2 separate regions of the Homo sapiens genome follow, and region 1 is linked to region 2. The links come from fine-mapping of genetic effects on gene expression. A gene starts in region 2. The other region holds a variant in brackets. All regions are shown on one strand. Distances are from middle to middle.

The links. PIP is the estimated chance that this variant, and not a neighbour inherited with it, causes the effect. A credible set is the group of variants that fine-mapping cannot tell apart.
Region 1: its variant is the best candidate, but not a certain one, in a credible set for the expression of UNC13C in cerebellum (GTEx, PIP 0.83).

The regions. Positions count from the first base shown.
Region 1 is chr15:54,625,808-54,630,215 of GRCh38, reverse strand. UNC13C (unc-13 homolog C) reads right to left here. Exons shown (of 33, transcript NM_001080534.3): 33 at 1,611-3,388. The coding sequence ends at 3,103. Among named protein-coding and RNA genes, the nearest start is that of RSL24D1, 570 kb to the left of the region's middle. The variant A/TACTTA (reference allele first, on the strand shown) is at 1,804.
Region 2 is chr15:53,975,967-53,980,374 of GRCh38, reverse strand. It overlaps UNC13C (unc-13 homolog C), which reads right to left and starts at 1,934. Exons shown (of 33, transcript NM_001080534.3): 1 at 1,448-1,934. It overlaps LOC124903495 (a long non-coding RNA gene), which reads left to right. Exons shown (of 2, transcript XR_007064646.1): 2 at 2,830-3,025.

The DNA.
Region 1 (4,408 bases), 650 kb before region 2:
GGTTTAAATACTTTGTGTTTGCTAAATTTGATTTACACGTGTATCTTTAAAGACCTGTAATGTGAGGTTTATCCATAGACAAGCAACAGAGCTTTGCCTTTGTGTGTTTTATCTAGAATAAGATGAATAAATTGCTACACACATTAGTGCAACACTCAATTGACAGAGATCACTGGGAACCTTAGAGTGACTACTAATTTGGGTAAGTAAATATAACAGGCTTTGTTCTGAAGACAACGGGAATACTTGTGCTTTGAGAGGAAAACAGAGTCTACAGAATTTATAATCATTTCAAAATTAGTACCTGTACTTTATGATAGTCATAAATAGACTTAATTCACCCTGCCACTATTAGGCTTTGATATATATTGTATACATTGTAAAAGACAGAATAATTGGATGCAATTAAACATGTCAGGGAAAAAATACCTTGCTCAATTTAAAGTGATCAATGCAAATCCTAACTGCCTTTTACTCAAATGTATCATGTATTATGACATTAATATGTGCTCCTAAAGAGCTTAAGTCAATGTTCTGTAAAATATTTATAACATAAATCTAGAATGAATTTTTCAAGTAATTGATGAAAACTTTTATCATGTGAGATTTTTAACCATGTTGCATGTTGAATTTTGTTCATGGGACTAAACGGTATTTAGCAATATATAGGTAGATACATTAGTTCATCCTTATTTTCCTCGTCATTACAATATACAGTGGTTTCCATGAACACACCACCTGTGGAATGAATTTTAACATCTGAACTTTTTTTTAAAAACTTTTATTTTAGATTCAGGGGTTCATGTCCAGGTTTATTACGTAGGTAAATTGTGTGTCACGGGGGTTTTGGTGTAGATTATTTTGTCACCCAGGTAGTAAGCTTCGTAGCGTGACAGATACTTTTTCTTATCTTTTCCCTCCTCCTACCCTCAAGTAGGCCACAGTGTCTGTTGTTGCCCCCTTAGTGTCCATGTGTCCTCATCGTTTAGCTTCCACTTGTGATAACAAACATGTAGTATTTCGTTTTCTATTCCTGTGTTAGTTTGCTTCAGGTAATGGCCTCCAGCTCCATCCATGTCACTGTGAAGGACATGGTCTCATTCTTTTTATGCCTGCATAGTATTCCACGGTGTATATGTACCACATTTTCTTTATCTGGTCTACTGTTGATGGGCATTTAGGATGGTTCCATGTGTTTGCTATTGTGAATAGTGCTGCAGTGGACATATACGTGCATATGTGTTTATGGTAGAATGTTTGTTTGATATTCCTTTGGCTGTGTACTCAGTAATGGGATTGCTTAGTCGAATGGTAATTCTGTTTGTAGGTCTTTGAGGAATCACCACACTGCTTTCTACAATAATTGAAGTAATTTACACTCCCACCAGCAGTGTATAAACAAACAAACATTTTTCTTCACAACCTCGCCAGCATCTGTTATTTTTTGACTTTTTAATAATAACCATTCTGACATCTAAACTTTTAATGAGATGTTAGAACCAAATAATATGAAGACTATTACATATGGTCAAAAGAGCCTGGAGTTTTTATTCCTAAATGAGATGATATTGCATAAATGAAATAAAAAGGCAGAAGATACAATACAATGCTGCATGTGCTCAATATACATCCATTTATTAAAGCATATGCCAGAGGATCGCATCACACTATGCATTTAGAGGAGTCATTAACAAAGCAGTGGCCTAACAGTTTAACATGAATTAGCTCACCTCACTGGTCTGTGATTTCATACTCAGTTGCAGAATGGTTCTGACAGTCATGATACTAAGCACTTCTGTACTT[A/TACTTA]ACGTATTAGATCAGCTTGTTCACAAAGCACAATCATAACAGGCTCTTGTTTCTGCTTCTGTAAGTAGTCCACTAACAGTTATGACCATAAGTTATAATTACAAAGTACTGTTTTACAGCCATATATTTTGGCATAGACTCTAAAAAGTCAAATCATAACAATACAGAAAATGCACATATTCATAAACTGTTTTATATTCAAAAACCAACTTAGCTATATTTTTAGGTACCAAGCTGTATTACATTGTTCTCCTACTGCATTTGATGCATTTGGGGCTTATAAATACAAATTACAAAATTTTAAGCAATTTCTTCCGACTTAATTTTACTATTTTTTCACTAAGTGGATGAAAACATGACTTTTGGCATCAGTACAATATATAGTAATGCTGCATTCAATACTAATCATTGAATATTTTTAAAAATAAAGCATTGAACTGATTATAGAGTCATAACTGTCAGAGGGAAGATATTAACAATATAGTTACTTACAGGTATTTTCAGTAAACTTTCCATCCCATTTCTAAACCATTAATGACTTTTTAAAGAATGAAATATGGTAAAGCCAAGACATAACACTATATGACAAATGCATTAACTTACCATTTTTACAAATGTGATGTGATCTTGGCAGTTTTAGAGAACAAAGTTTTGTCAATATATATCAAACATTGTTAACAAACTCTAGCATTGCTTTATGTAAGTTTGCTTTAACAGCATTTCTTCACAGTGATATTTCAGAAAGGTTGGAAACTGGTCAGCAGAAAATATTTCCCACCTTTTCTATTTTAATGTGTATGCAAAAATCACAATATCTGCGACTATAAAATTACAAATGCTTTCTAGAAGTGACTGCATTTCTAGTTATGGTAGAAAAGGGTATTTGTAAGACATCTATAATGAGGTAAGTAAATAAAATGGAAATTGAGTAATAAATGTTTTCTGATCTATGGGCAATATAATCTCATTTAACAAAGACAACTGATGGGCAAACTCAAAAGACTAGTTTTTAAAAATTATGTTTAATGAATGTGAAATGGGTAAAGAAACAAAATAAACATGTTAAAAGGTGTTCTTGATATTTCACTTTACATCATAATTTTGGCACTTCATGGAACACTGATTTCCCAAAGACCAGAATTGGTATAAAAGTTCAGCAGGTTTTTTACATACCTTGTAGACATCGTACATGAGTACTGGCAAACATTGAAATGTAGTGAACTAAACATTCCCATGTATTTGCACATGCATGCAGTAGTCAAACAATTATAGTTATGTATTTAGCTTGCAGTGTTTGTTTCAAGCACTCTCTTCAGTAGATCTTGTTTCAGATTTAAGTCTTACAAATTCTTTAGCCACATCATCACTGGTCCTCTGAGAGAGTATTCTAAGGATAGTCAAACCAGTTTCATCCATAGAGATATTTTTCAGAAGAGGATACCATGCCCCATAGCTTCCCTTTTCTGCTATGTTCTGTAGCTGAATGACTGTCATTCCGATAATTCGATCTTCTCTGGCAAAGCAGTAATCCTTAACTGAGAGATGAAGTTCATAAGCCCCTGGTCGATTTTCCTTTCCGAGAATGCTGTGTGGATTAAAAATACAAATTTTGAGCAAAAACTTTACTTCCACTAGGCATCATTATGGTTCTCAAATACTGCTGAAAACTGTATACATTGGATCTGATTATTATGTTGGCAAATAGGATATCAGTGTATTTTAACCCTTTAAATTTGGCTTAGAAAGCGAATGTTAAAATGACTTTTTCCCTAGATAGAAAAGACAGAAAAAAATGGGAATTAAGATACTATGTTACACTTAATCAGTCGAGGCAGAATCTCCTGATTGCGGGTGCGGTGGAGTTGGAAAGGGGTCATGGGGGCTAGGCCAGGGTAATGGGTACCTCTTGGTAGAATTTATATGCCATTTCAATATCAGTTACTACTCGCACTTTACCTCCCCATTTCAATATCAGTTACTACTCCTCGCACTTTACCTCCAAATCTTGAATAAGCTATTATATCTAGGAGTCTTTTCTCAGGGGAATACACTGCACAGCCCATCAAGCACTATTCACAATATGCTAAATTGGATACAAATCTCCATCCAGAGTAAATCAATTCCAGCAGAGCCTGGTGATTCAATGCCGATTCTTTCCTATGGTAACAGTTAGACCTGTCAAGTGTGTGGCCTCTCCTAACAACCACCTAAGACAGCTTGTTAGTGTCAACATAATAAAGAAGGCCAAGTGGTGATATGGTAGATACAGTCTGTCTTCCTCCACCCCTTATTTTTGTTCATTCTCATATTCTTGATTTTCTAATGAATGTACATCTAGCCCTCAGCAGTACCAGCTTCCAAATTCCTTCCTTTTACAGGTGATTTTTTTCTGATGAAACATTTTGATTTCCAGGAAACACTGGTAACTAAACTTTGTACTTTAGGGAGAATCTGAAATAATGTGAAAGAAAATGGAAGTCTAGGGGATAAGAGTAGAAGAGCAAAATATGATGGGAATCAGATCTCATGAATTAAAAATGCTGCCTTTAAGTAGCTCACTGTGTTATATCTAACAAGAAACTTTAGTTGGGTCCAGGTTTTTGAG
Region 2 (4,408 bases):
AACAAACATAAACTTAATACTTTGCTCATTTTCTAAATCACTCCTCTGGTATCAAGAATTGCCTATACTTACCATATTTTGACATTGTTGTTGTTATAGTCATGCGTGGAATTTTAAAACAAATGATTTCCTCATTTTGTTTACGGCCTAAGTGCTCCAGATAGCTACCATTTGGCAAAAATGAGGTTTATAGTTTTCAAAGAGCAGGGTGGTGATTTACTTTACAGTATGCATAAATGACAATTTAAAGCCCACTTACCTCTATTGCATTTGAACTTTTTAATCATAAGAAAGTGGGAACAACAATAATTAAAAGCCAGGGTCCTAGAGCTTTGGCATTAACTCTGTGTTAACACTAAAAATCTATTAAATATTTTATATATACAAAAATGTAGTACTTTCTCATTCTCGTTTCTCCCCTCCAGAAAATCTCATTTAATATAGACATATGCACATTTAATTTATTGACAATTTAACCCACTTTTATGAAAAGTATTGATGAGCAAAAGGTGGTAAGATGATTTTCTAAAAATCATTAAGTTTTTTATTAATTTCAAAATTATATAAACTTACAATTTTAGCTTCTTAAAGAAATGCAGAGTATTTTAAAACTAATCTTTATAAGCATTACCCACCCTCAAACCTCTTTCCTGTTTTTCCTTAAAAGCCTAACGAGGAAAATTGATTTTTAAGTGTTGTCATCTCCGTCTAGGTACTAAAGACAGCCAACATTACTATTGTTGTATATCTGTCTTACTCTTGATGATACAAGTATATTGATGATGTAATTGCAGAAGTTAGGGTTTACTCATGCTGTTGGACCAAAGGGATTTTTTTAGACTGCCTCCTTGAGCACCACAGAACAGTTGTAAAACAGAACCAAGCACACAATTTAAGCAATTCATCTCTTGAAAGTAAATCTGCAGGATCTTCTTCTTGAAGAACTGATGAAGAGCTAGAAATAAAAAAATCATTGGTAAAGCTTCTTTTGCTTCAGACTGGATGCTGAGCTGGAAAAACACTTGGGTGACACACTAGTGTATGACATCTTGGCTTTTAACCCTTTCCTAGAAGCCCTCAACTTTTGTTCTCTGTTGAGCTCTATTTTTTTCTTCCAAAATTCCGAGGGGTTATGGAATATCCCAGCCTTTCATCTCAACCCTATTTGTCCCTATGTAGATATTCTCCTGAAAGTTGACTGGAAACTAAGCAGTCATTTATCATTCTGAATTCTTTTTTTAAAAGCAATGACTGAGAAGTCATGATGCTCCATAGAATCATGTACATTATAAAAACAGGAGAGCCGAGATTTTACAAATATATCTGCTACGCTAAGAGAACCCCATGGTTGTGATTTCCAAGTGCAAACAAAAAGAAGGGACAGGAAAATACAGACAGAAAATCGCATGCAGATGAAGCAGTGCGTGCAACGGAGGAAAGAACATACCTGAGGAATTCTCCTTTAAAAAAAAATGTGCACGCCAACTGGGTTGTTCTTCCCCTCCTTTTGGAGTGTATGTGTTTTCCTTTTAGGAACACCACTTGCAATTGTGTTTCTAGTCTCGTTTCCTTTTTTCAATCACAAATAGTTAGAACAGGAGTGGAAGCTGCGTCCCAGGGATCCGACTCGTGCAATCAGGCATGCCTTGGTCTGCAACGGTGTCTGTTCTTTTCTTGTCAATTCTATCGCACTCCCGGGTAGCCTCCGAAGCAATTCTACAACTTAGCTGCTGGCAAGAAACTGCCTTTCACTCTTCTCATTGCCAAATACCTTCCGCGGCTCATTTCTCATCTCTTTCTCCCAGAAAGCAAAATGGGATCTCTCCCGTGTGTTGAGGAGCGCCCAGGCTCATCAACATTTGAGGGTGAGGAGCAGCCGGGCTGAGTGCGTGCTGGGAACTTCACACATCGCCGGCTGCGGCTGAGTCTTTTCTGAATGCAGCACCGGCACTGCGATCCCCAGCCTCCTCCACCGAGAGCGCCCGGGCTCCCTCTCCTGCCGCCGTAGCACGGCGTAGCTCCGAGAGGGTGAGCTACAGCCCCTGCTCACAGGAGACGCACTGTAGCCACTGCCAGGTGTGGCCTTCACCACCGCACTGACAACTAACTGTGTGGGACACAGCTTCATCGCTGGGAGACGCCTGAATGCCAGAGCTTCCTCAGCCTATCTTCCCTTTATCGCTGGATGATGACCTAGGAGACAGTCATGGCCAATTCTGCCAGTGGAATAGCGTGGATAATACTAAATTACCCATGTTATTCAACAATGACTGTTTTAGATGTACTTGACTGTACTTGGAATTATGAAAGTATACCGCACACAGTATCATTCCCTATTAGCCACCAAATGCAGCTAACAGGACCCTGTATTTAAATAGAGGAGATACTGATATCCCATCCCAGTTGGTTTTTCCTCTTATTTTTGTGGAAAACCATTTGAAGGTGATTCCTGAACAATTTCAATTAATGACACATGCATAAATCAAAGTGGGAAATGATGGGTAACTTACAGTGATGCAAAGGTTTTTCTTCTCACTTAGGAATAATGTCTTTTCATTTGATGTTAACATTTTAAAGATCTGGCTGGGAATTGAATGGACTTGCTTTCTCTTTTAGTTTTGCTGAGTAGAGGAGGTGGGGGGAGTAACAGTTCCCACTTTCCATCAATAAAGCATTTTCAATCCTCTAATCCTCCTGTTGAAACAAATAAAAAAGTACTGAATCTTAAAATACAGCCTTAAAGCAGCTTGAGGCCTGAAATAATTTGGAGGTTTTAAGCTACATCTGCTCTACTGCTTACTTAAAATTTTACTTTTCTTTGCTTTTTAGAAAATGGAAGGATATTTCCAGGACTGAAGAACGTCAACTAGCAGCTGTGGTTAAACAGTATAGGAAGCATATATACAGATTTGTATGGCATTTTTCAGTACATGGAGGGATGAATATGTCTTGACTGACATTAGAATTGACTCCACCTAAATATTCAATAATAATAGTTGCCATCAAAATAAACAGTTAAACCGGATATAGCATTTTGTGGCAAAACTTGTGGCAAAACATTTCACCTACCGTATGTGACAACCAATAAATAACCTCTCCATGATGTTTAAAAAAGTGTCCCCAAATGTGACACAATATATATGTTGGGTACTAGCAGCTGAGCCCTCCCCATTCCCAGCTATCAGCCCCACCTTTAATTCAGAGCAGCACAGCTTCCCTTACCCGCTGCTTAAGTGACTGTTAATGGACCTGAGCAGCTGCTCAAGGTCTAATGATCTGCATCAGGGGCAAGTACCAGGGCAGTCTTATTCCTGCCTTCACTCATCACGGGAGTGGCAGGCAGGACAAAGCTCTGCTGCCCCCGGCTGTAACACTGGAGAGTAGCACAGGAAAACCGGTTAGACCTAGAAGCACCTGATAGGGCGAAACTTGACTTTTTTATACAGAAAAACTCATGCTAGCCAATACACTATTTTGAAGAACGTGTTTTAATACATAGAGAAAAGAACACCTATTCACTGAATCTGTTTTCACTTTTTGGTGTGAAATAACCACTGCAAAGTACAGAAGCTGTGGTCAGCTGAGAGACCCTAGCACCCAGAATAAGGTAAATGTGCATACGTCTTCAGTAAATTTGGATTTAATGTCAGTGATGTAAATGTTTAAACCTACAGAAGGAAATAAATGAAAGATGATTCTAACCATGAGCGGTCTATAAAACATGTATGTAGGAAAATTAGCCAGACTTGGTGGCGGGTGCCTGTAATCCCAGCTACTCAGGAGGCTGAGGCAGTAGAATCACTTGAACCTGGAAGGCGGAGGTTGTAGTGAGCCAAGATCGCGCCATTGCACTCCAGCCTGGGCGACAGAGCAAGACTGAAAAAAAAAAAAAAAAAAGAGAGAGAGAGAGAGAGAGAAAGAAGAAAAAAAAACACCATGTATGTAGTGCCATGAAAAGTTTGAAAATATTGCTCTAATTCAAATATTCTCGTAGAGGAAATGAATCACACCAGGGGTGGTAATCATTAGTTTTTATTGGAAAGAAGAAATAATGTTTCATGAATGCTTCGATGCCAGCATGTGTGTTTTAATGAATGCAGTGCTAAGCTCTAATAATCAGGATTCTGGTCATATATTTCAAAATGGAAATTGTTTACATCTCTGAAAGTGGCAGGAAACATGTATGTGAGGGACTCTGGCTGCTAATAAAATATGTTGCCGTTAGAGTGACAGAGCTTTATGACTTTATTGACCTGCAGGGACATCAAAATCCCTAGTAGAAATGTTTTGGCTTTTGACGAGTAGTTTTCACTACTGAGTACCTGATTTGAATAATGTGTAATTACAACGATGAGATTTCAACAGTAAGAGCCACATTCTTATCAGTAAGATGCATTCTGTTTCTACG